7 linked regions of the Homo sapiens genome follow. The protein of the gene in region 1 interacts with the protein of each later gene in a biochemical or structural test. Each region holds a gene or a part of one and is shown in the gene's direction. Other genes may lie near its edges. The genes, in order: ABL1, MAPT, BCAR1, HERC1, MBP, CCND2 and ARHGAP17.

Region 1 (3,500 bases):
ATCTCAGCTCACTGCAACCTCCGCCTCCCAGACTCAAGCGATTCTCCTACCTCAGCCTCCTGAGTAGCTGGGACTAGTAGCTGGAACTACAGGCGCCCGCCACCATGCCCGGCTAGTTTTTTCTATTTTAGTAGTGACGGGGTTTCACCGTGTTGCCCAGGTTGGTTTTGAACTCCTGAGCTCAGGCTCAGGCAATCTGCCTGCCTCAGCCTCCCAATGTTCTAGGGTTACAGGCATGAGCTACTGTGCCTGGCCCAGTTAGTGATTTTTAAATTGTAGTTCCTTAAATGAGTATTTTGGATTTCACTCCACAATGTTCTTCAACTGTAAGATCTACTTGAGGTTATTTGATTTGCTGGTTTGCAAGAACTCGTCTACACGTTGTCTTTATCACAAAGAAATTCTGGAGCGTTTGAGCCCTGTTCAAAAAAAAAAGGCAAGAAGAAACTTCAGGAACAAATAACCTATTTGACCCTGTAATGAATAATATTCACACATTTTCTAATTTAAGAGCTGTTGATTGATTTCCAACTTTTAGAATCTGTTTCAGACAAAACATGGAAGTTTAGTAACAGTTTTTTCTATTCTGTAATAATAATTGCCACAAGGTTAAAAAAAAAAATTTACAGAAGAACATATTTGAGGGTGGTCGTGGGGGCAAGAAAGCTGGAAGGACGGGTGGGGTGTGTTAATAGCCTTGTCTTGTGAAGTAAGTCCTCAGAGACGCTGTCCTAGTTGGAAGAACAGGCAGTGAAGGTGTGCGTCTGTTACGGAGAATAGGACTCCAGTGATCTAGCTGGTACTTAGAGAGGTGGGGGTGATCACCAAAAAAACAGCTCTGCCTCTGGGAGCGGAGAGGACTGGGATAGAAAGTATTTGTCTTTCATTTTAAGCCCTTCTGTACGATTTGACTTTTCTTTTTTTTTTTTTTTTTTTTTTTGAGATGGAGTCTCACTCTGTCACCCAGGCTGGAGTACAGTGGCACGATCTTGGCTCACTGCAACCTCCGCCTCCCAGGTTCAAGCAATTCTCCTGCCTCAGCCTCCCAAGTAGCTGGGACTACAGGCACCTGCCACCATGCCCGGCTGATTTTTGTATTTGTAGTAAAGACAGGATTTCACTGTGTTGGTCAGGTTGGTCTTGAACTCCTGACCTCATGATCCACCCCCGGCTTTTTTTTTTGACACGGAGTTTCTCGTTACCCAGGCTGGAGTGCAGTGGCGCAATCTCTGCTCACTGAGACCTCCACCTCCTGGGTTCAAGCGATTCTCCTGCCTCAGCCTCCTGAGTAGCTGGGACTACAGGTGTGCGTCACCATGCCCGGCTAATTTTTGTATGTCTAATGGAGACAGGGTTTCACCATGTTGGTCAAGTTGGTCTCAAACTCCTGAACTCAGGTGATCCACCCACCTTGGCCTCCCAAAGTGCTGGGATTACGGGCGTGAGCCACCATGCCCGGCTAAAGCAAGAAATTTTCATTGCATATTTTAAGCAAAGGCAAATGCATATGTGGATAGACTGTTTTAATTTGACTAAAGTCATATTGAATCCATGAATTTTAGAAGCTCAAACTATTGGGGAACAATAATTACCACCTTGGAGTGAAAATACTTAATTTCCACAAGATTTAGTAAAGGAAGAGTTTTTTAAAAACCACCTTAATGATAATAGTATGTACAGATGTTAAGAAATGAAATAGGAATGTGTAATGTTGGAAACACAAATATTTTTGCTTCTGAGAATAAAACTAATTTTTTCTCCCAATTTTCTCTTCCTTTTTCTTTTTTCTGTTCCCCCCTTTCTCTTCCAGAAGCCCTTCAGCGGCCAGTAGCATCTGACTTTGAGCCTCAGGGTCTGAGTGAAGCCGCTCGTTGGAACTCCAAGGAAAACCTTCTCGCTGGACCCAGTGAAAATGACCCCAACCTTTTCGTTGCACTGTATGATTTTGTGGCCAGTGGAGATAACACTCTAAGCATAACTAAAGGTAAAAGGGTTGTGGGCAGCTAGTGGTGGTTGCAGGAGATAGAAATCTGGGAATTGCGGTTTGACCTACCACCCTTTGCTCGTTAAAGGAGCAGCTTTGAAATCTGGACTGCAGGGATATCCAAAACAACAACTGCATGTTTCTAAGGGAGTCGACTCTCCTTAGAGGAGTTCTTGTACAATAGCCCTGGGCAAAAACAGAACTTGCCCTATTTTTTATACTGAAAAGGACAGCTGGACAAAATACTGAACGCAATTTTTCCCCTAAGAAAAAGCATTATTTCCCTAAAATGTCTTATATTAGGAACAGAGCACTTGAATAAACATAATTGATTTATAAAAACTGAGGCTATACACTTACCTATCTGTTCAGTACAAACAGGAAGCTTCAAATGTAAACGTGAATTCTCATACACTTATAAATGCATATCTTTATGTGGACTTGTTAAAATGAAATTGGTATTTAGGAATTTGGAGATTTTTAGTAGTTACACAAGAATCAATGAAAAAGAACGAAGCTGGTTTCCAAAGCTGATATGTCTGATTTGGTTCCTTTCTTCTCAGGTGAAAAGCTCCGGGTCTTAGGCTATAATCACAATGGGGAATGGTGTGAAGCCCAAACCAAAAATGGCCAAGGCTGGGTCCCAAGCAACTACATCACGCCAGTCAACAGTCTGGAGAAACACTCCTGGTACCATGGGCCTGTGTCCCGCAATGCCGCTGAGTATCTGCTGAGCAGCGGGATCAATGGCAGCTTCTTGGTGCGTGAGAGTGAGAGCAGTCCTGGCCAGAGGTCCATCTCGCTGAGATACGAAGGGAGGGTGTACCATTACAGGATCAACACTGCTTCTGATGGCAAGGTAGGGGACCCTTGGCAGGGGGCGCTGATGGGCCCAGGGCAGGGGAACCAGAGGTCCTGCTGTCGGATTGATAAATTATTGCAAGAAAGCTCAACCAAGAAGATGTTTAAAGAATCTTTCAGGTGGGAGTCATTCCATTAGCCTTATGAAGACCCTTTATTGAGGATCCGTTCTGTGATATTACAAGTTCCTGGGACTGGTATGATTCTCTTATTGTCTTGCTAGAGTTTTGTTGTTAGCAAGTTACTTAAAATAGGAGGAATATCTGTTGGGTTTTGGACACATTTTTTACAATAAGATTCTTCCTTTAAAAAAAATATTTTATAATGATAGAAATCATCCCCAACGAGAAAAATTCAAATAATAGATAACCTTTCTTAGAGCGAAAGACCACTTTACTATCCCCTCCCCCACAGACGCCTGGCACGTGGGCTTCTTCCTGCGGATGAACACATTCATGGAGAGGTGTGTGGACATACGTGCATACACGCATGCAGTTTTCAGTGAAAACCGGGATCAAACCCACAGCTTACCAAACCCAAAGTGTGGTGTTGTAAGGGAGGTGGCCTATATGATTTTGTGGTCTTCATATAAATAATCCTTAAGAGTCCATAAAGAGAAGGGAGGAGTTAACATTGACTGAGGTATTGCTATAAT
Region 2 (2,640 bases), on another chromosome or scaffold:
TCCTGGCCAGGCGCAGTGGCTCACGCCTGTAATGGCAGCACTCTGAGAGGCTGAGGCGGGCAGATTGCTTGCGTCCAGGAGTTCAAGACCAGCCTGGGCAACATAGCAAAACCCCGTTTCTATTAAAAATACAAAAAATTAGCCAGGTGTGGTGGCATGCACCTGTAATCCCAGCTACTCGGGAGGCTGAGGTGGGAGAATCACCTGAGCCTGGGAGGTCAAGGCTGCAGTGAGGTGAGATTGTGCCACCGCACTCTAGCCTGGGCGATAGAGCAAGACCCTGTCTCAAAAACAAACAAAAAACAGTCCCTGGCACTCTGGGCCAGGCCTGGCAGGGCAGTTGGCAGGGCTGGTCTTTCTCTGGCACTTCATCTCACCCTCCCTCCCTTCCTCTTCTTGCAGATTGAAACCCACAAGCTGACCTTCCGCGAGAACGCCAAAGCCAAGACAGACCACGGGGCGGAGATCGTGTACAAGTCGCCAGTGGTGTCTGGGGACACGTCTCCACGGCATCTCAGCAATGTCTCCTCCACCGGCAGCATCGACATGGTAGACTCGCCCCAGCTCGCCACGCTAGCTGACGAGGTGTCTGCCTCCCTGGCCAAGCAGGGTTTGTGATCAGGCCCCTGGGGCGGTCAATAATTGTGGAGAGGAGAGAATGAGAGAGTGTGGAAAAAAAAAGAATAATGACCCGGCCCCCGCCCTCTGCCCCCAGCTGCTCCTCGCAGTTCGGTTAATTGGTTAATCACTTAACCTGCTTTTGTCACTCGGCTTTGGCTCGGGACTTCAAAATCAGTGATGGGAGTAAGAGCAAATTTCATCTTTCCAAATTGATGGGTGGGCTAGTAATAAAATATTTAAAAAAAAACATTCAAAAACATGGCCACATCCAACATTTCCTCAGGCAATTCCTTTTGATTCTTTTTTCTTCCCCCTCCATGTAGAAGAGGGAGAAGGAGAGGCTCTGAAAGCTGCTTCTGGGGGATTTCAAGGGACTGGGGGTGCCAACCACCTCTGGCCCTGTTGTGGGGGTGTCACAGAGGCAGTGGCAGCAACAAAGGATTTGAAACTTGGTGTGTTCGTGGAGCCACAGGCAGACGATGTCAACCTTGTGTGAGTGTGACGGGGGTTGGGGTGGGGCGGGAGGCCACGGGGGAGGCCGAGGCAGGGGCTGGGCAGAGGGGAGAGGAAGCACAAGAAGTGGGAGTGGGAGAGGAAGCCACGTGCTGGAGAGTAGACATCCCCCTCCTTGCCGCTGGGAGAGCCAAGGCCTATGCCACCTGCAGCGTCTGAGCGGCCGCCTGTCCTTGGTGGCCGGGGGTGGGGGCCTGCTGTGGGTCAGTGTGCCACCCTCTGCAGGGCAGCCTGTGGGAGAAGGGACAGCGGGTAAAAAGAGAAGGCAAGCTGGCAGGAGGGTGGCACTTCGTGGATGACCTCCTTAGAAAAGACTGACCTTGATGTCTTGAGAGCGCTGGCCTCTTCCTCCCTCCCTGCAGGGTAGGGGGCCTGAGTTGAGGGGCTTCCCTCTGCTCCACAGAAACCCTGTTTTATTGAGTTCTGAAGGTTGGAACTGCTGCCATGATTTTGGCCACTTTGCAGACCTGGGACTTTAGGGCTAACCAGTTCTCTTTGTAAGGACTTGTGCCTCTTGGGAGACGTCCACCCGTTTCCAAGCCTGGGCCACTGGCATCTCTGGAGTGTGTGGGGGTCTGGGAGGCAGGTCCCGAGCCCCCTGTCCTTCCCACGGCCACTGCAGTCACCCCGTCTGCGCCGCTGTGCTGTTGTCTGCCGTGAGAGCCCAATCACTGCCTATACCCCTCATCACACGTCACAATGTCCCGAATTCCCAGCCTCACCACCCCTTCTCAGTAATGACCCTGGTTGGTTGCAGGAGGTACCTACTCCATACTGAGGGTGAAATTAAGGGAAGGCAAAGTCCAGGCACAAGAGTGGGACCCCAGCCTCTCACTCTCAGTTCCACTCATCCAACTGGGACCCTCACCACGAATCTCATGATCTGATTCGGTTCCCTGTCTCCTCCTCCCGTCACAGATGTGAGCCAGGGCACTGCTCAGCTGTGACCCTAGGTGTTTCTGCCTTGTTGACATGGAGAGAGCCCTTTCCCCTGAGAAGGCCTGGCCCCTTCCTGTGCTGAGCCCACAGCAGCAGGCTGGGTGTCTTGGTTGTCAGTGGTGGCACCAGGATGGAAGGGCAAGGCACCCAGGGCAGGCCCACAGTCCCGCTGTCCCCCACTTGCACCCTAGCTTGTAGCTGCCAACCTCCCAGACAGCCCAGCCCGCTGCTCAGCTCCACATGCATAGTATCAGCCCTCCACACCCGACAAAGGGGAACACACCCCCTTGGAAATGGTTCTTTTCCCCCAGTCCCAGCTGGAAGCCATGCTGTCTGTTCTGCTGGAGCAGCTGAACATATACATAGATGTTGCCCTGCCCTCCCCATCTGCACCCTGTTGAGTTGTAGTTGGATTTGTCTGTTTATGCTTGGATTCACCAGAGTGACTATGATAGTGAAAAGAAAAAAAAAAAAAAAAAAGGACGCATGTATCTTGAAATGCTTGTAAAGAGGTTTCTAACCCACCCTCACGAGGTGTCTCTCACCCCCACACTGGGACTCGTGTGG
Region 3 (3,500 bases), on another chromosome or scaffold:
TGCGGGCCTTGGCTTCCCTGGGCTCTGGGTCATGGTAAGAGCACCTGGGGAGGGGAGGGCTGGCCCTGGACCCACTTCCCCCACTAGGCCTCATCCTTTCAGGTCGCTGGGGATCTTACCTGCTGCAGGCAGCTCCCCCGGGGCAGGCGCGGCAGGGAGGGGGCCTTGGTCCCAGCTGCTGCGCCCCCCAGCACACACCCAACCTGCCCCTCTGGCCCTGTCCTCCAGAGTCTCCCCATGCTGTGCTGTGGGGCAGGGGGTGCTAGGCTCTATCTGGTCCTGGGCCGGATGCAGTCCCCTGCTGGGCCAACCCTTCTGAGGAGGCTACAGCTAGGTGGTGTGGGCAGCAGACTCCCAGGCCTCCGACGTGGCCTCTTGTCCTGTGGGGCTAGGCGCCCCAGTAACGGGGGGTTCCTTGCCTGTGGGTAGTGCCCTCCAGAGCCAGGGCCTCAGCCCCTCACCCCACCGGTGTCATCAGCTCATACCCATGCTCCTCTGTGGAGCCTTCTGGGTCAGCAGGCTGTAGAGACGTTGGTGTCCTGGCCCAGGACGAGGCAGCTCTGAATAAAACCCAGAGTTCTTGCCGTACCTGGCACTGCGTTCTGCTAGAGGAAGGTCAGATGGTGCAGAGGGGGTGAGAACTGGCATCCTTGGGGAGCCCCGTCCCTTCCACCTGGTGTGCCCTGCCCACCTCCTAAAAGGACGTGGCTCCCAGGTGTGAGTGGAGCCTCCCTAAGGGCTGGTTTGAGGGCAGCAGTGAAGTCGGCTCTCTGCCCCCAGGTGGTGGTGCCCACCCGCGTGGGGCAGGGCTATGTATACGAGGCCGCCCAGCCGGAGCAGGACGAGTACGACATCCCGCGACACCTGCTGGCCCCGGGGCCACAGGACATCTATGATGTGCCCCCGGTTCGGGGGCTGCTTCCCAGCCAGTATGGCCAGGAGGTAGGTGTGGGGTGCGCAGCGGTGGGAGGGCAGGGCGGCAAGTCTGTGCCTCTGCTTGGCCCTGGGCCGAGAGCTGCATCTTCTCAGCCCCGGCCAGGCCTGGGGACGGTGCTGCGGGGTTCCCACCTTTCCTATTCCCCCAAGTGGCCCTGGCGCCGTTAACCCTGCACTGTTTCTGCCCCAGGTGTATGACACACCCCCCATGGCTGTCAAGGGTCCCAATGGCCGAGACCCGTTGCTGGAGGTGTATGACGTGCCCCCCAGTGTGGAGAAGGGCCTGCCACCGTCCAACCACCACGCAGTGAGCAAATGCCAGGGCAATGCCAGGGCCAGGCTGAGGCTGTGGGGTGTCTGGGTGTGTGCACAGGGGTGCTGACCAGTGTCTGCAGGGCTGGGGGTGGCGGGCAGGAAGAGACTGGCTCCAGACCCTGGTTCTGGATGGTTGACAGATGAGGAAATCAAGCTGTCTTCTGAGCCTCAGGTTCTTTGTCGGCAGAACCGCCTGTTGCGAGGCCTTCTCCATGAGCTCCTGAGAGGGTATCCGCAAGGTGACCACGGGATGTGTCATCTCACCTGGGATACTTCCAAGAGTGAAGGGGGGACTAGTAATTATGTGGGGGCATCAGGGACAAACCAGCACTGTCCTGGGCAAACCAGAATTTGGTCCCCTGATAATACACACAGAGCTCAGTCGCACACCTGCTGCAGAGTAGAAAGTTCACACGTGGTGGTGGTGCTGGGTGGTAACAGTGATGGTGGTGATGAGGTGGCAGCGGCGGTGATGGTGATGAAATCATGATATGATGGTGGTGGCAGTGGCAGTATCACAGCTAACCTTTCAGTGAGTGTCTGCAGTGACACAATTATGTGAATTAACACATGCAATTCTTTGGGAGGAAGCTCTCCCACCTTCAGGCACAGGGGTGGTCACCTGGCTCCAGAGCCGGCTCGTCCCAGAGCTGTCATGGATAGGAATTGTGAAGGATGTGTGTGCTAGGGCTGCGAGTGTGTGTGCGCGTGTGTGTGCCTGTGTGCGTGCCTCTGCATTTGTATGTGTGCCTGTGTGTGTGCGCGTGCCTCTGTGTGTGTGTCTGTATGTGTGTACGTGTGTGTGTGTGTGTGGCTGGGTGCTGCCCCCAGTCCCTGGGGTGGGCAGATGGACAGATGGACAGTCTTGACCACCGCTTGTCCCCCAGGTCTACGACGTTCCTCCATCGGTGAGCAAGGATGTGCCCGATGGCCCACTGCTGCGTGAGGAGACCTACGATGTGCCCCCCGCCTTCGCCAAGGCCAAGCCCTTTGACCCGGCCCGCACCCCACTGGTACTGGCTGCGCCCCCTCCAGACTCCCCGCCGGCCGAGGACGTGTATGACGTGCCGCCCCCGGCTCCTGACCTCTACGACGTGCCCCCTGGCTTGCGGCGGCCTGGCCCGGGCACCCTGTACGATGTGCCCCGTGAACGGGTGCTTCCTCCTGAGGTGGCTGATGGTGGCGTGGTCGACAGTGGTGTGTATGCGGTGCCTCCCCCAGCTGAACGTGAAGCCCCGGCAGAGGGCAAGCGCCTGTCGGCCTCCAGCACCGGCAGCACACGCAGCAGCCAGTCTGCGTCCTCCTTGGAGGTGGCAGGGCCGGGCCGGGAACCCCTGGAGCTGGAAGTTGCTGTGGAGGCCCTGGCACGGCTGCAGCAGGGTGTGAGCGCCACCGTTGCCCACCTTCTGGACCTGGCAGGCAGCGCCGGTGCGACTGGGAGCTGGCGTAGCCCCTCTGAGCCACAGGAGCCGCTGGTGCAGGACCTGCAGGCTGCTGTGGCCGCTGTCCAGAGTGCCGTCCACGAGCTGTTGGAGTTTGCCCGCAGCGCGGTGGGCAATGCTGCCCACACATCTGACCGTGCCCTGCATGCCAAGCTTAGCCGGCAGCTGCAGAAGATGGAGGACGTGCACCAGACGCTGGTGGCACATGGTCAGGCCCTCGACGCTGGCCGGGGAGGCTCTGGAGCCACCCTTGAGGACCTGGACCGGCTGGTGGCCTGCTCGCGGGCTGTGCCCGAGGACGCCAAGCAGCTGGCCTCCTTCCTGCACGGCAATGCCTCACTGCTCTTCAGACGGACCAAGGCCACTGCCCCGGGGCCTGAGGGGGGTGGCACCCTGCACCCCAACCCCACTGACAAGACCAGCAGCATCCAGTCACGACCCCTGCCCTCACCCCCTAAGTTCACCTCCCAGGACTCGCCAGATGGGCAGTACGAGAACAGCGAGGGGGGCTGGATGGAGGACTATGACTACGTCCACCTACAGGTGGGTGCCGCCTGCCCAGCCCCGGCTCCTCTTCTGCCACGCTGGGCTCCTGTGCTTAGGGGGAGATTTGTTCTCAGCTGGGGCCTGGTCCCTGGCAAGGCCCTGCACCCTCCTCTCACTTTGACCTCCCTCACCCCACATTGGCCCCATGTGCTAGGGTGGCCATGTCATCGAGCCCTTCGTTGAGTCCCTCGGGCTGGTATCTCTGGTGACCAGCAGCGGTGACTCTGCTGTTCTGTGTGGGGAGACAGATCTGCAGAAATG
Region 4 (3,500 bases), on another chromosome or scaffold:
ATATAGTAGATGCCTTATTCTGCAGGTTCTGAAGAAATAGTTAATTATTGACATTTTTTCCTTAAAAAGTACCAGCTAATCAGAGGTAGTTCACAAATTTTATTATTTCTCATTATTTTTTACTTAGACAAAATTTAGGATATTTTGAAGTTCCATAGGCATTAAAAGCATAGCCTTTTTGGATATAAAATATCCAAAAAGCAAAGATGTCCCAGTTACTAGAAGGAATTTCGCAGATTAAATGGTGATAGCATTATTTTTTATTTAAACAAATTTATTATGTGGCATGATTTATTTTCAACCAGGATGTTTTGGTCGTGAATTGTACAGCAGAATGGGCAGCTGCCAATCATGTTTTGGCAACCTGTAGGACAGCATTGAAACAGCAGGGTGTTCTGGGATTGAACATGGCTCCCTGCATGAGAGCATTTTTGGAGCGGCTCCCCATGATGCTTCAGGAGCAGTATGCCTATGAAAAGGTAACTCATTACACTCACTCCTAGAGATACACAGATACCTGGTGCTTTGGAATGTGATTATAGCCTTGAACTTATCCCTTAAAAGCATGAGGTCTGAGGATAATAAGTGGGGCTATTTGGGCAGAATCAAATGAAGGTAAGTCATGCCTAAAAGAGTTGTTCAGCAACCCTAAGCCTATTCTTGCTTTATTTTCACCAGAGTAAAATAAAGAAACAAACACCAAGTTTGTATTACTGCTTTTCAGATTATTTATTCACTCCAAAGCTTCTTAAAATACCTATGCAGCAGAATATCTTCCCTTTTCTGACCCACACATATATCTATTTTTATATGGCTTGGCCATTCCAAAGTTGAGGGATAGGGATGGATGCGGGTATCAGACTGAATATCGTCTCCACTTATTAGATAAATCTTTGTGGAAAATTTAGTGGAAGAGCTATGTTGAATTGAGTAGGGTCATTAAATACTGGAATGAGGAATTGCAGCGTTTGAACTTGTCCAGACAGTGATCCTAAAGTAGCCTGTCTTCCAGCTTTTTGCTTTTCCTTTGATGGCTACCAGGATTCTCTTATAAAGGAGGAAAGTGAGAAGAGCAGATCTCTGTGGTTAAATAGTTACCTGCTTTTTTTTCCAATCAAGAAAAACCATGATGAAAATGTACTATATGCAGTGTGATAGCTTAGATTGGATCCTGGAGCAGAAAAGGAGTATTAATGGGAAAACTGAGGAAAACCAAATAAAGTTCTGTGGTTTAGTTAGTATTGTACCAATGTTAGTTTGTTAGTTTTGATAAATGTGCCAGGGTTGTATAAGATGTTAACATTGGATAAAGTTGGGCGAAGGGTATACAGAAATCCTCGGTACTATCTGTACAACTCACTCTAAATCTAAAATTATTTCCTAGCAAAAAGCTTAAACAGTAAACTTGAAAAATATGATTCCAGACTTTCAGACTACGGTAGGTTAATTTAGAATATTTGGCACAAACTCTTTGACATATTATATCCTTGTATTTTGTTTTAGCCTCATGTGGTTTGTGGTGACCAACTTGTTCATAGCCCCTATATGCAATGCTTGGCTTCCCTTGCTGTGGGACTTCATCTGGATCAGCTGTTGTGTAACCCTCCAGTGCCACCACACCACCAGAACTGTCTCCCTGACCCTGCATCCTGGAATCCAAATGAATGGGCCTGGTTAGAATGTTTCTCAACCACTATAAAAGCTGCCGAAGCCCTGACCAATGGAGCCCAGTTTCCAGAATCTTTTACCGTTCCAGATCTAGAACCTGTTCCAGAGGATGAACTTGTATTTCTAATGGTAAATGTACTGTGAGCTGCTATTATTTGCAGCTGAGATTTTATCATGGGTATTGGGCATGTAGCAGACCCCTAATAAGTCTTTGCTGGTATGCATGGCTAGAAGGATACCCTTAAGAGAAATGGAAAATATTTTTCTTTCAGATAGTCACTTTCAATCTGATGGCAGGCCTCCATAGTGACAGGAATTGATAATGTAAGCACTGTTGAACTCTTGTAAACCTGCCACCTCTCAATGACATAGTCCCATATTTTCTCATTTTCTTTTGTCCATAGGTACTTTGTTAGTGCTTTAGTTGTATATATCTTAGCATCTTTTCCTGGTCATCTTGTGGGTTATATGCCACATATAGATTCTAATTTATTTGGCATTTCAATCATGTCTTTAATTAGCATCAAATAAAATATAGAAGAGCATTCTAATTGTCATTTCATTCTGTTTGTATTTGAGAGTGTCTACTCTAGAAACTGTGACATAGATAAAATACCTGTTTAGACTACAGGACAGCACATGATCTAACAACCTCTTTGTATACTTAAGATTTATGTATACAAACATTTGGATAAACATTGATACAATATGAAACAGACAAATATAAATTAAGTAAAATTATGTAACTGTAGCTATGCATCACTTAATGATGGGGATATGTTCTGAGAAATGCATTGTTAGGCAATCTTGACGCTGGGAATATCATAGAGTGTATAGTACTTACACAAACCTAGATGATACAGCCTACTTGCAACAAGACTATACGGTATAGTCTGATTACTCCTAGGCTACAAACCTGTACAGAATATGACTGTATTCAATGCTCTAGGCATTTGTAACAGTGATAAGTATTTGTGTATGTAAACATAGAAGATATAATAAAAATAAGGTTTTATAATCTTAAGAGACCATCTTCACACATGCAGTTTGTTGTTGACTGAAATGTCACGTGGCACAAAAGTATACAATATTTTAATCAGAAAATGTCCTTCTAAGCCCATTTGGCCCAACTCTGTAATTTTGTAGATGAGGAAGCTGAAGCCCAGAAAGATGAAGTAATTTGCCCACAGCTACACAAAGAGTTTACAGGGGTGTGGGGTCCTCCACATGACCTTGTACCTGTGGGTGTTCAGAAAACACATGGCTAGCTTTGAATCACCAATGCCATAGTGATAGTGATAGTGAAAGTGTTTATAATAAAGGGAAATACTGACAGTGCATAAAATCAAGTTTGACATAATTATAAAACTGCTCTTAATTTATCATAATATTACCATATTCTTTTTTGGAAATAAGACTTAATGATTAGAAGAGGACTTTGTGGTTAAGAGCAGGTGCATCTTGCCTAAGCAGAATTGATCATTATGTACCCCCTGTTTTTCAGGATAACAGTAAATGGATTAACGGCATGGATGAACAAATTATGTCTTGGGCAACTTCCAGACCTGAGGTCAGTAAAGATGAAGATAACTGTATGATGGTTCTCAGTCAATGTTTTGATTCTAAATGCTTGTGTGTTTGTGCCCTGGTGTCTCCCATACAGGCTGGCACACACTTGGTACGTAGTACATGGCTGTTTGAGTGAATGGATGACTCTAATTTTGAGATGATTGTGGTTTTCTAGGACTGGCACCTGGGAGGTAAATGTGATGTCTACTTATGGGGTGCTGGTAGGCATGGACAGCTGGCAGAAGCTGGAAGAAATGTAATGG
Region 5 (3,500 bases), on another chromosome or scaffold:
GCGCTTCCCGACTGTATCTGCCACGGATTGCACCGTGCGCTCCGTGCGTTCTCCAGAGAGCTCACTTCTCTTGAGATTAGGCTCCCATGTAACGCTTAGCCTAAAAACACAGGCTTTGCAACCTATGGAGAGTGCTTGCCATGGGCTGGGAGCGGAGGGGGCAGCAGAGAGAGCACAGGGCATTTTTAGGGCATTTTTCGGGCAGCGAAACCGCTCTGTCGAGGCTGCCATGGTGACTGAAGACCACGCACTTGTCCAAACCCACAGCGTGCACAGCACCGAGAGAGCCCTAAGGCAGTGTTGCTAATAAGGGAAACTGTTCGGGGTATGTGGAAACTAATTTCTGCACAGTTTTTCTGTAAACCGAAAAGTGCCATGCAAAACGAAGACGATTAAAAACAAGAACAAAACCACAGGCTTCTAATTCCAAGATCTCAGTGCAGCAGACATTTTATGCTCGTATTCGATAAGTGCACTTAGGAGCTGCAGACCTGGGGACATCCCCTTGGAAGCTCTGAATGTCAGAGGGCCCGCTACTCCTAGCCCCGGAAAGGGCTCACGGTGAAGCAAAGTCCGCCGCCTCCCTCAGTGTCCCAAGATGGGCCCATTCCCCAGCTACGGAGCCTCTGGGAGGTGTTTTCCATCCTCTGAAACACTTCCTGAGTGCTCTGGGAGATCTGCATCATCTAGAATATTTTCAATCTCAGGTCTATACTTCTTCACCAACTAGGACAGAAGTGGGGAGGCTGGGCACCCGGGTGCTTCTGGCAGCTGATGGATGCTAGCCACCCTCAGCAGGCAGGAGCCCGTTAGGAAATGGACGGCGGCACAGGGCTCCCAGTGCAGCCCACGGTTCTCTGTGTCTTTCCAGGTGACGCCTCGCACACCACCCCCGTCGCAGGGAAAGGTAAGACCTTGGAATGTTTTGATTGATCATCACTTTTCTGATAGACCTTCTCTAAAATCCCATAATGTACCAAAGAGAGAGTTAGGCTCCGAGCTACCAGAATCCATCCCAAAACGTGTTGCCAGGCAGCTCCCAAGTAGAACAGGTCGGCAGATCCATGCACCCCTCCTGTCCCTCCCGCACCTGCACAGCCGCTGTGGCCCTGAGCCTGCGGCCCCCCTCGGAGCTCCGGGTGGAACCTGTTTTTACCACCTCAGCTCCACTGTGCTTTGACTGTGTTTCCTGTTGATTGAAAGGACTTTCCCTTCACTGACCACCATGTCATTATTTCTCTGTCTTCCTCATGCAGGGGAGAGGACTGTCCCTGAGCAGATTTAGCTGGGTAGGTGACGAACGCACTTCCATCGGCTTCCTCTTCCGTCCCAGTCCTCACAGCCCCGCAACTTTTGTGTTCTGCTCTGTTTCGGTTGCTTCCTGGCCTCCTTTTCTCTCCTCTCGAGACCTCTCTGCCCACAGCTGGGATCGGGCCGCCTTGTCTTCCACTGGGGAAATGAAACGTGGTCTTCCCTTCCGGAAGGTCTGGTCTCTTGCTTCTGTGCCGGGGACCCAGCCCTGCAAGGCCAGATCCTCTTCTCCCAGAGGGTTCCCAGGCGACGTGACTGGTCTCCCTCCCAGGGAGGGAGCAACACCACGTCCGAGAAAATGTTTAACTTCCTCCAACACAACCAGTGCGAGAAGCCCCAGGAACCCGCATGTGGAAGTGGGACTGGCTGGCCCGTCTCAGTGACCCCAGATGCTGACACTGGGAAAATGATTCTGCTGATGAACAGAAAAAGAGGCTAAATAGAGTTGCTCGATTTATAATAACCTCATTAATCCAAAGATTTTTGTTTTGTATGTGTTTAAATAATAATTAAAACATAGATATCAAGCCATCCAGAAAATCTTCCTTAGGAATTTTAGGCTGGTTAATACTGAAAGCAAACTTTCAAGGAAGGTTTAAAATGGCCAATTTGAACTTTCTAGTGAAAAAATTTGGTGTCTGAGCCAAATTAAAATGCCAATCATTATATTCTAACCAAACTTACAGACTTTAGTTACTAGCAAATACCAGATATGATTCTTACTGTATAAAAGTTATAATTTTAGAATAAAATGGAGGAATAACCACCAACGTATTGTAGATAGGTTGTGTCTGTCTCCGAAACTGCAATGCTCTCATACGCTAGAACAGAGCCTACCTACACTTTCTGCTCAATTAATAAGCATCATATAAATGAATGAATACATTTTAAAAGAAAAACAACAAGGAGAAAGAACAGGAAGAAAGAACAGGGAAAGAAAACAGAAGGTGGGGAAGAGGAAGGAAGAGAGGGAGGAAGGGGCAGGGTACTTGAGAGACCATGAGGATCCCAGATCAGTCCCACACATGATTACACTGAATTATGAACTAAGATATTTACCGAAACGTTTTCCATTAATGCATATTTGACTTGCTTTTTCTGACCTAATGAATTTGCAAAACGATGACAATCATGTAGCAAATGTACATGGACTAGTACTCACAATTAATTTTTTATTTTCTATGCCAGCAGGAGACAAAGATGATAGAAGAATGAAATTCATTTTTGACCCAGAAATCTTATTTTAGCTACTGCTTTATCTGCTCTTAATTTTCTAGGAGTGGACTTTGGGGCCGTCGTGCCGGATCCTCCCTGAATGTGGAGCGATGGGGGGTTGCACACAGGCCGTTCTGCCCCAGCAGCTAACAAGAAAGACCCTTGCATTCCTCCCTGCATCTCTCCCTTTTGGGTCCTACTAATGTCTGTTGAATTTCTCTTTTTTCCAAAGCAAAATCCTTCTCTGCATTTTGTCTGCTTGTCTGTTTCCCAGAGCCGCAGGACTCTCTCCTTGTCTGGAGTTCCAGAGAGCCCCCACTTTCTCTTTCTAAGCTGTGTTGTGTGTTTCCTGGTACATTCTAGGTTCCCCAAAGATAAACATGACTAAGGATTGGAAAGGAGGAAAGGCCGCGCAGATTGTTAATCTGAAAGTCAATCCCCGGATTTAGCTCTCAAAAATGCTTTATTTTTGGAGAAAAGCAATAGAGTAAGACAGAAGGACTTAACGCTTGCAGGGAAGTGGCTTTCTGCCATGTAGAGCCAGGCTGGCAACCTGCCCTCTGCCATCAGGGAGTGAGCATGAACCTGGAAACCTCTAGGACGCAAGAGCGAGGCTGGCTGTCCCCTCGTGTGCAGTGCTTAGACCTTCTTGCCACACATCCCGTCCCTCACCTCACTGGATAGCCCCCGAATCAACTGTTCACACGAAAGCAGCTGCCTGGTTCTGAGTGGCCATGCTCACTCCCAAGCACAGGCTGAATGAAAAGAAAACTGTGCAAGTAGCTTGTATGGTGGGAAGCCCCCAGCAGAGGCTGAGGGTGCAGCCAGGTGCTCTGGAAGCCTTGAGGCCTCTGGTGTCATCTTCCTCACCTCTAAATAAGAGATGGGCTAGGTTGGTCAAGGTCCTCCCTGTCCTAAAACACTTTAATGAAATGGAAGAAAGGCTGCAGGCTGATAGAGGAGGGACAGTCTGG
Region 6 (3,500 bases), on another chromosome or scaffold:
GGCATCGTTCCTTGGCTCGGGTGAACTGCATCTCAATGAATTGTGGAATGTGCTGGGTTAGAGTTGCCAACTTCTCTCTTCCATTCGCTGAGTGTTCATGGGGTTCTTTTCATTCCCCTGTGGGGCTGCACTTTCTCCCAGTTCTGCAAAGCAGCAGGAGGCTTTGGGGACTCGATGATGTCATTTCTGGGACACATACACAACTGGATAGTGACAGATTCTCCAGGAAGCACAGAGCCCTCATTCTTCCTGGCCTGCTTGGCCTGCTCCCTGCATCTGCCTGCAATCCAGGGATGCTGGGCGCCTTTCTCCTCATCCCTCCAGACGCTGGAGAGCATCTCCAGTCGGAACTCCCCACCACAGTCCTGCAGGAAGTACTAGGAGTGAGAGCAGAGGAGGGGCAGGTTGGGGAGGATGCTGGCTGACATTCATTGCTTACCTTGAACCAGGCACTGTGCTTTTACAAGGATTATTTTAAGTGAATCCTCAGAACAGCACTACAACGTGGGTATTGCTGTTGTCATTATTTGCAGATCAGAAAATGAAAACTCAGAGAGGTCAGGTAACTTGCTCATCTTCACACACTTGGTAGGTGGTGGGATGGAGATTCCACCTCCTTCTGATTCCAGAGCTAATACTCTGAACCAGTGAGCTGTGTTCTCCAGAGGTCTGCTTTGGTTGGAGGGGAGCTGGAGCCCTAGGCCCTGGGACGGCCTCTGTTGCCCATGGCAAGGCGTGTGGCTGCTCCTGCTCTCTTCAGATCTCCAGATGCAGCAACCTGGAGAAAGGCCCTCCTGGGTCTGGTGGGGACTGGGGCAGGAGTGGAGGCTGCCCAAGCTCCGTGCACTCCACGTTCCAGCTTGGAGCTTTTTGAGTCTACTCTCCAAATCCTTCCCATCTCCCTGAAGAGTCTTCTGAGAAGTGTCTCAAATGCTCCTCTTCACTCAAGAGCCTCCTTTCTTTTTTTTTTTCTTTTCTTTTTCTTTTTTTTTTTTGAGACAGTCTTGCTCTGTCACCCAGGCTGGAGTGCATGGCACAATCTCTGCTCACTGCAACCTCCAACTCCCGGGTTCAAGTGATTCTCTTGCCCAAGCCTCCAGAATAGCTGGGATTACAGGCGCGTGCCACCATGCCTGGCTAATTTTTGTATTTTTAGTACAGACAGGGTTTCACCGTGTTGGCCAGACTGGTCTCGAACTTCGGACCTCAGGTCATCTGCCCACCTCGGCCTCCCAAAGTGCTAGGATTACACTGTGAGCCACTGCGCCCAGCCTTCAAGAGCCCCCTTTCTTTGAGAAGTTTCTTCAGAAGTTATCCATATAGTAGTACAGACCTAGCCATTATAGCACACCATCCTCTACTATCTAATGCATTGATGCCCAGCCTTAAGAAGTCTGAATATTGTACGTTTTGGGGGGAGTCCTCCATGCTGCCTGGAACAGGGAGGAGCACATTGTCATGAGTCGATCAGAATGGATCGCTGATCGGTTCATTGCCTCTCTCTCTGCTGCAGGAGGAAGGATCTCAGGAAGTCACCAGCATCTCACCTCTCCAGGTGGGCAATTAACGATGGCGAGGGCACACCCTCACCCCTGAGCGTGCCTTCTGCACCAGCATATTGCTTGTTGGCATTTTTGATCAAGAGACTTAACAGACTGCTGAGAAATTTGTACCTGGTTTTTATTTGTTAAAATAATATTACGTACAAATTTTACAAACTCATCTGTGTTTCTCCCACCTAACAGAACAGCTTTTATTTTCCGTGCATCCTTCCAGTTCATCCATAGGCATATATGTATGTATTTACCCATGGTTGTAATCTTCATCGTCGCATGCATGCATGCAATTTGGTTTTCCGCTTCCTTCTTCTGAGTGGATATTGTGACCATTTCTCCATCCTGTCATAGCGACAAAGCTGATGGTTTCCAGGAATGGCTGCATTGGGTAGGTGGAGCTTTCCACAGTTGAGGGTGGGGGTTGGCTAATTACAGCTAGGAAGCTAGTGCACAGATGAAATGATGTTTGATTTTTTTGTTTTTCTCTCTGTTCAGTATCCCCTACCAGTAGAGAGGGGGATGTCCTTGAGAGTGGTCCTGGGGCAGCCCTGGTGCCACGGGGAAGTAGCGCCGCTCTGTGGAGAGGGCTGCTTTGTGAATTTGCCGGCTGGTAGACACCGTGATCCATTCTATTGTCTCCTCATTGTTCTTCTCCTTGGGAGTCATTCCCATTCCAGATCCTCAAGTAAGAGCAAAGTAGACCTGTAAGGCACCTGGGAGGTTATCCTGCTTACTATCTTTAAACTCTTGACCTAAGCCATGTAGGAAGAAACACATTTTATAACACAACTCAGGATACTTGTACAAGTATATCAAACTGATACAAAAGTTTCTCCGAACAATATTTACTCTTAACGACATACGGTGAGCCTGATACTTTCTATCCTACTCTATTTGGTTAAAGGAGAACAACAACAGAAAGTGCTGGTCACGACCCACAAATGCATTTCATGACCCATTAATGAGTTGCAGCTAGAAGTTAGAAAAACACTTATCTCACCCAACCCGTTATTAGACAAATGGGAAACCAAGCCCTTGGAAAGAGGAAGTGACTTGCCCACAGTCCCACGTCTGGACCTAGCTGGAGGGCTGATGTTGCCTCAGTATTTGACTAACCTGGAGGAGAGGTGGGGCATGCTCAGGGATCCCGAGGAAGATGCTCGTCTTCTGTGTAGCGGGCAACAGAGGGCAGCACGGCCGCCGTCCTCGTCTCCAGCGGCGTCTCTCCTCTGGCTGTGGGAACACACTGCTCCTTTGGTGCCACTCTGAGCTGCTGAGAGGCAGTCAAGTTCATGCACATAGTGCTCCCCAATTCTGTGGGATTGGACAGTGTCCCCAAGAGGACTCCCCTGAAAATCTTCTTAGTAAAACAAAAAGGGAGGTAGAGTCTCCCTGTGCAACCGGTGCACCTGTTCCCCCTATGCCTGCTGGCTTCCAGAAGTTCATTCGTATGCCAATAATAAGAGTTGGTTTTGCTAGCAGTGGGACAGCAGAGATGGGCATGTGTGAGGTGTGCTTCCCGGTCTGAGGCCTATGGCAGAGGGAAGGGAGGGCCGGGGATACTTGCCTGCCTCTTCCCTGGCAGATGCTCCCACCCGGGCCTTTGTGGGCCCAGGGCCATGGGCCGGCTGCCCCGCTTGTGTTATGAATGTCACAGGGGGGAGCTAACGAGGTTATTGGGCAGAGAAACACTCTCCTGTGACCCATGTGGAAGAGACCTACAGCAGAGCAAGAGGCAGGGAGGCTGGCTTTGTCACACTGTTCATGGCGACAGAGAAGGCGTAGGAGGGGCGGGTGGACAGCAGGCGTGGGCGCAGCACCATTATATACGTCCCTCAAGAGGTGGAGATGGTGAGAGGGCAATGGAGAAAAAGCCAAGGAGACAGGCAGATGGCCAGGTTTGCTCTGCGTTCATGATGGGAGGGGAGGGCTGTGCTTGGCTCA
Region 7 (3,500 bases), on another chromosome or scaffold:
AAAATCCATTCTTTACTGGGGGGAAGAAATGAACTCTAAAACCATAAAAATGATGAACCAGTAGAAAATTTTCATCTGTAAATTTGAACCATAAAAGGATATGTTCATTTAGCATCATTTTTATATGTGTAAGCGGCATGTTACGCTATTATGGAATTGCCTTTGTAGCAGAGTGGACGAGGCAAAACCTTCCAAGTTTGATTATGGCCTAGGGCGCTGCAGTCAGTACGTGCACCGTGCATTTTTGTCAGACCACAGGATGTTTCACCTTTATCATTCTATTTCAGTTTCTCAAGTGTAGGTAGATGCTGTAGTAACTAGTGAAGTACAAATCCATGTAAAAATGTTAAACTCTCATCTGTTCGCTGTGTTTGTATTTTCTTAAAGGTAGGGATTAAAAGTGTAATAGGCCCACAGTCCCTTATCTGGAATCATTGGGCCAGATAAGTTTTAGAATTCAGAATTTTTCAGATTTTTCTAAAAGTAATAATATGCATATATTGTTGTTATGTAATACTTCCAGTGGGGTCTGGGACAAAATCCCATAATCAAACATTAGTATAGCAAAATATATATACATATATTCCCACTGAATGGATATGCATGAAGATTATGCATAGTTTAATATCAGTTCAGGTCAACTTTTATTGCCAAATAAGTTACAAAAAAAGATTTGTTTTTTAGAACTTTTTGGATTACAAAATGGTGATAGGGATTGTGGACTTGTCTTACTTTTAGTTATATACCTATTGAGAGTCTGTTAAATTTTTTTACTGTAAATAATATTTCCCATATTCCCAAAGGTTGGAAACCACAATCACATAAGCAGGGGTCACAAACCGAAGTGCCAGGTTGGGTAAAATAAATAAGTGAAATGGGAGGCGGGTATAGGACAGTAGGGAATGTGGGGACTGCAGTGAACTGGTGAATACATGTTCATTCAAAGGGGAGAGCTGCTCTTCAGTTCTAGCCACTTGTTGCCATGGTGAACGTGGGAGTAGTGAAGCTACATCTTCCATTTTTGATGATACTCCAGAATGCTGATTTTCATGTGAAGTTTCTTGATATTTAAATGTTGGCAACTAAAAAGAAAAAAACCCACTGTTGGCCAAAGAAAACATCTGAAAGCATTATCTGGCTGTGGGCTGCCTGCTTTCATTTGTAGTTTAGAGACTAATGCTTGTGGTATGAAAAGTTGTCAGTGAGCCGGGTGCAGTGGCCCATGCTTGTAATCTCAGCATTTTGGGAGGCTGAGGTGGGAGGATCACTTGAGACCAGGAGTTTGAGACCAGCCTGAGCAACATAGCAAGATCCTGTCTCTACACACGCAAAAAGTTTAGCCAGGCATGGTAGCATGTGCATGTAGTCCCCAGCTACTTGGGAGGCTCAGGTGGGAGGATCGCTTGAGCCTGGGAGGTCGAGGCTGCAGTGAACTGTGATCCTGCCACCGTGCTCCAGCCTGGGTGATGGAGTGAGACCCTGTCTCTAAATAAGTAATTTGTCAGTGGCATTCGTAATGAACTACTTTCTTGAGATATGGATGGGTGCATTTGCTTTATTGTTATTCATTATGCTTTACATACACACTATATGTTCTTTGCACATAAAATATTTCATAATAAAAATCTAAAGAAGTTGATAAGCACTTTATTTTAGCATTGCCTTATTTTCTAGCCATTAGGAAATTTTCATCTGTAAATTTGAAACTTTAAACTTATTTATCTTGGAAAAGGGACTGAAAGCCCCACTTCAAAAATAGGAGCCCTCTTTTTAAAAAGTAGGAGTTAAAAGAGGTTAGATTGTAATGTTCATTCCTTTCCAGGGCCATAGTGATCTGAAGTAACATTGGGTATTCACTGTTATATTGCGACAGAGAAATGTCCTCGATCTCCTTTCTTCTCAGACCGTTCCCCTGGGTGATCTCAGCCCCATAACTATCACCTCATGGTGACAGTTTTATGCCTCCAGCCCTGGGGTCTCTTTATCCCTAGAATGATGCTATCATCTCTCTCTTGAAAAATCTCTGCTGACATGGCCTGATAAAATTGAACCCATGAACTTCTTCCTCAAATTGGCTTCATTTCCCTCTATCTTCTAGTCTGTGAGTCACGAGACTTTGGCCTGCAGGGTAAATCCAGCCCACCGCTTGCTTTGTGAAAAAGTTTACTGGAACACAGCCACTCACTACAGTGGCAGGGTTGAATAGTTGCAACAGTGACCCATATGGCCTGCAACGCCTATGGTATTTATCCTCTGGCACTTCATAAGAAGCATGTGACCCCTGCCCTAGGGCATTAAATGCCCTCACACCCTCCCTAGTCACCTGTCAGTCCCATTCTTTTTCCTCCATCATCTCAGTCAGGTGAGGAGACTGGAAATTCTGCCTCTTTGATTATCTTTTTCTTTTTTTTTTTTTTTTTGAGACGGAGTCCCTCTCTGTCACTCAGTCTGGAGTGCAGTGGCATGATCTCGGCTCACTGCAACCTCTGTCTCCCGGGTTCAAGCGATTCTCCTGTCTCAGCCTCCTGAGTAGCTGGGACTACAGGCGCACACCACCATGTCCGGCTAATTTTTTTTTTTTTTTAATTTTTAGTAGAGACAGAGTTTCACCATGTTGGCCAGGCTGGTCTGGAACTGACCTTGATTATCTGTTGACTTCATCTTTGCTTCCCAGAGGCCATCCTTCCTGTTACCTTAATTAGGTGCTCATTATTTTTCACTTGGAGTCAAATTTGTCTTCCAGTTGGCTTTGCTGCCTTGAGCTGGCTTGAGCTGGATTGTATCTACAATTCCCCAACCTTCTGTTTGACATGGTCGGTCACCATTTTAATGATTATAGCTGCTCACCTCTAAATTACTTTTTCATGATGAATTCTCTAGAGGTTAGAATCACTAGATTTATAGGAAATTAATGTTTATATCATGACAGTATTGCCAGGTTGTCTCCTAAGATGATAATGCCGTCATTTAGTTTGTAGTGCAGAAAGTGATGTTGCGCAATAATGTGTGTCATTATGCATGACATGATGAATATCACATTTCACCATCACCTTAGTTGCATTAGATATTGTCCTTAAAAAATTTGTTATCTATTTAAATTTTTTCCACTAAGTTCAAAATGAATGTGTTCTTACATTTGTATTTCTTTATATGAGTTTTCTCTGTATGTGTCATTTGTTTGTCATGGAATTAACGTTTAGTTATCAGTTTCATTGCTCAGTTACCAATTTAGTTCAACAAATGTCTCTTGAGAACCTGTCAAATGATAGGGGCTGGGGTTAAAAATATAATTGATCCCTGGGGACTTGAATGTGGAGACAGAGCTACAAACAGATAATCTGAATGTAACCAGTTTTATCTATTCTAGCAGATCTTAGGTGCTGTTAATGAAATCTTAATGCCATTCTTTGATGTATTTATGTACTTTAATATAAACAAGTTAGCATTCTTGTTCATAGATATGTTCCTCAACAGATACAGTGATGAAACCTTGCACATTC

Evidence for each region.
Region 2: of the proteins of ABL1 (region 1) and MAPT, one has a biochemical effect on the other in vitro, tested with the Homo sapiens proteins (2 studies listed by BioGRID).
Region 3: of the proteins of ABL1 (region 1) and BCAR1, one has a biochemical effect on the other in vitro, tested with the Homo sapiens proteins (one study listed by BioGRID).
Region 4: of the proteins of ABL1 (region 1) and HERC1, one has a biochemical effect on the other in vitro, tested with the Homo sapiens proteins (one study listed by BioGRID).
Region 5: of the proteins of ABL1 (region 1) and MBP, one has a biochemical effect on the other in vitro, tested with the Homo sapiens proteins (one study listed by BioGRID).
Region 6: the proteins of ABL1 (region 1) and CCND2 form a complex in vitro, tested with the Homo sapiens proteins (one study listed by BioGRID).
Region 7: the proteins of ABL1 (region 1) and ARHGAP17 form a complex in vitro, tested with the Homo sapiens proteins (one study listed by BioGRID).

What each region holds. Positions count from the first base shown.
Region 1 is NC_000009.12:130,852,254-130,855,753, forward strand, and holds part of ABL1 (tyrosine-protein kinase ABL1), read left to right. Parts: intron 1-1,810; coding exon 1,811-1,984; intron 1,985-2,547; coding exon 2,548-2,843; intron 2,844-3,500. UniProt on the Homo sapiens protein: Non-receptor tyrosine-protein kinase that plays a role in many key processes linked to cell growth and survival such as cytoskeleton remodeling in response to extracellular stimuli, cell motility and adhesion, receptor endocytosis, autophagy, DNA damage response and apoptosis.
Region 2 is NC_000017.11:46,023,554-46,026,193, forward strand, and holds part of MAPT (microtubule-associated protein tau), read left to right. Parts: intron 1-402; coding exon 403-618; 3' UTR 619-1,563; coding exon of another isoform or gene 1,564-1,635; 3' UTR 1,636-2,640. UniProt on the Homo sapiens protein: Promotes microtubule assembly and stability, and might be involved in the establishment and maintenance of neuronal polarity.
Region 3 is NC_000016.10:75,234,625-75,238,124, reverse strand, and holds part of BCAR1 (breast cancer anti-estrogen resistance protein 1), read left to right. Parts: exon of another isoform or gene 1-31; coding exon of another isoform or gene 32-34; intron 35-780; coding exon 781-942; intron 943-1,126; coding exon 1,127-1,243; coding exon of another isoform or gene 1,244-1,297; intron 1,298-2,138; coding exon 2,139-3,236; intron 3,237-3,500. UniProt on the Homo sapiens protein: Docking protein which plays a central coordinating role for tyrosine kinase-based signaling related to cell adhesion. Implicated in induction of cell migration and cell branching. Involved in the BCAR3-mediated inhibition of TGFB signaling.
Region 4 is NC_000015.10:63,638,449-63,641,948, reverse strand, and holds part of HERC1 (probable E3 ubiquitin-protein ligase HERC1), read left to right. Parts: intron 1-305; coding exon 306-479; intron 480-1,503; coding exon 1,504-1,797; intron 1,798-3,172; coding exon 3,173-3,238; intron 3,239-3,412; coding exon 3,413-3,500. UniProt on the Homo sapiens protein: Involved in membrane trafficking via some guanine nucleotide exchange factor (GEF) activity and its ability to bind clathrin. Acts as a GEF for Arf and Rab, by exchanging bound GDP for free GTP.
Region 5 is NC_000018.10:76,986,284-76,989,783, reverse strand, and holds part of MBP (Golli-MBP), read left to right. Parts: intron 1-871; coding exon 872-907; intron 908-1,256; coding exon 1,257-1,289; coding exon of another isoform or gene 1,290-1,694; exon of another isoform or gene 1,695-2,081; intron 2,082-3,500. UniProt on the Homo sapiens protein: The classic group of MBP isoforms (isoform 4-isoform 14) are with PLP the most abundant protein components of the myelin membrane in the CNS. They have a role in both its formation and stabilization.
Region 6 is NC_000012.12:4,283,762-4,287,261, forward strand, and holds part of CCND2 (G1/S-specific cyclin-D2), read left to right. Parts: intron 1-3,500. UniProt on the Homo sapiens protein: Regulatory component of the cyclin D2-CDK4 (DC) complex that phosphorylates and inhibits members of the retinoblastoma (RB) protein family including RB1 and regulates the cell-cycle during G(1)/S transition.
Region 7 is NC_000016.10:25,005,370-25,008,869, reverse strand, and holds part of ARHGAP17 (rho GTPase-activating protein 17), read left to right. Parts: intron 1-3,500. UniProt on the Homo sapiens protein: Rho GTPase-activating protein involved in the maintenance of tight junction by regulating the activity of CDC42, thereby playing a central role in apical polarity of epithelial cells.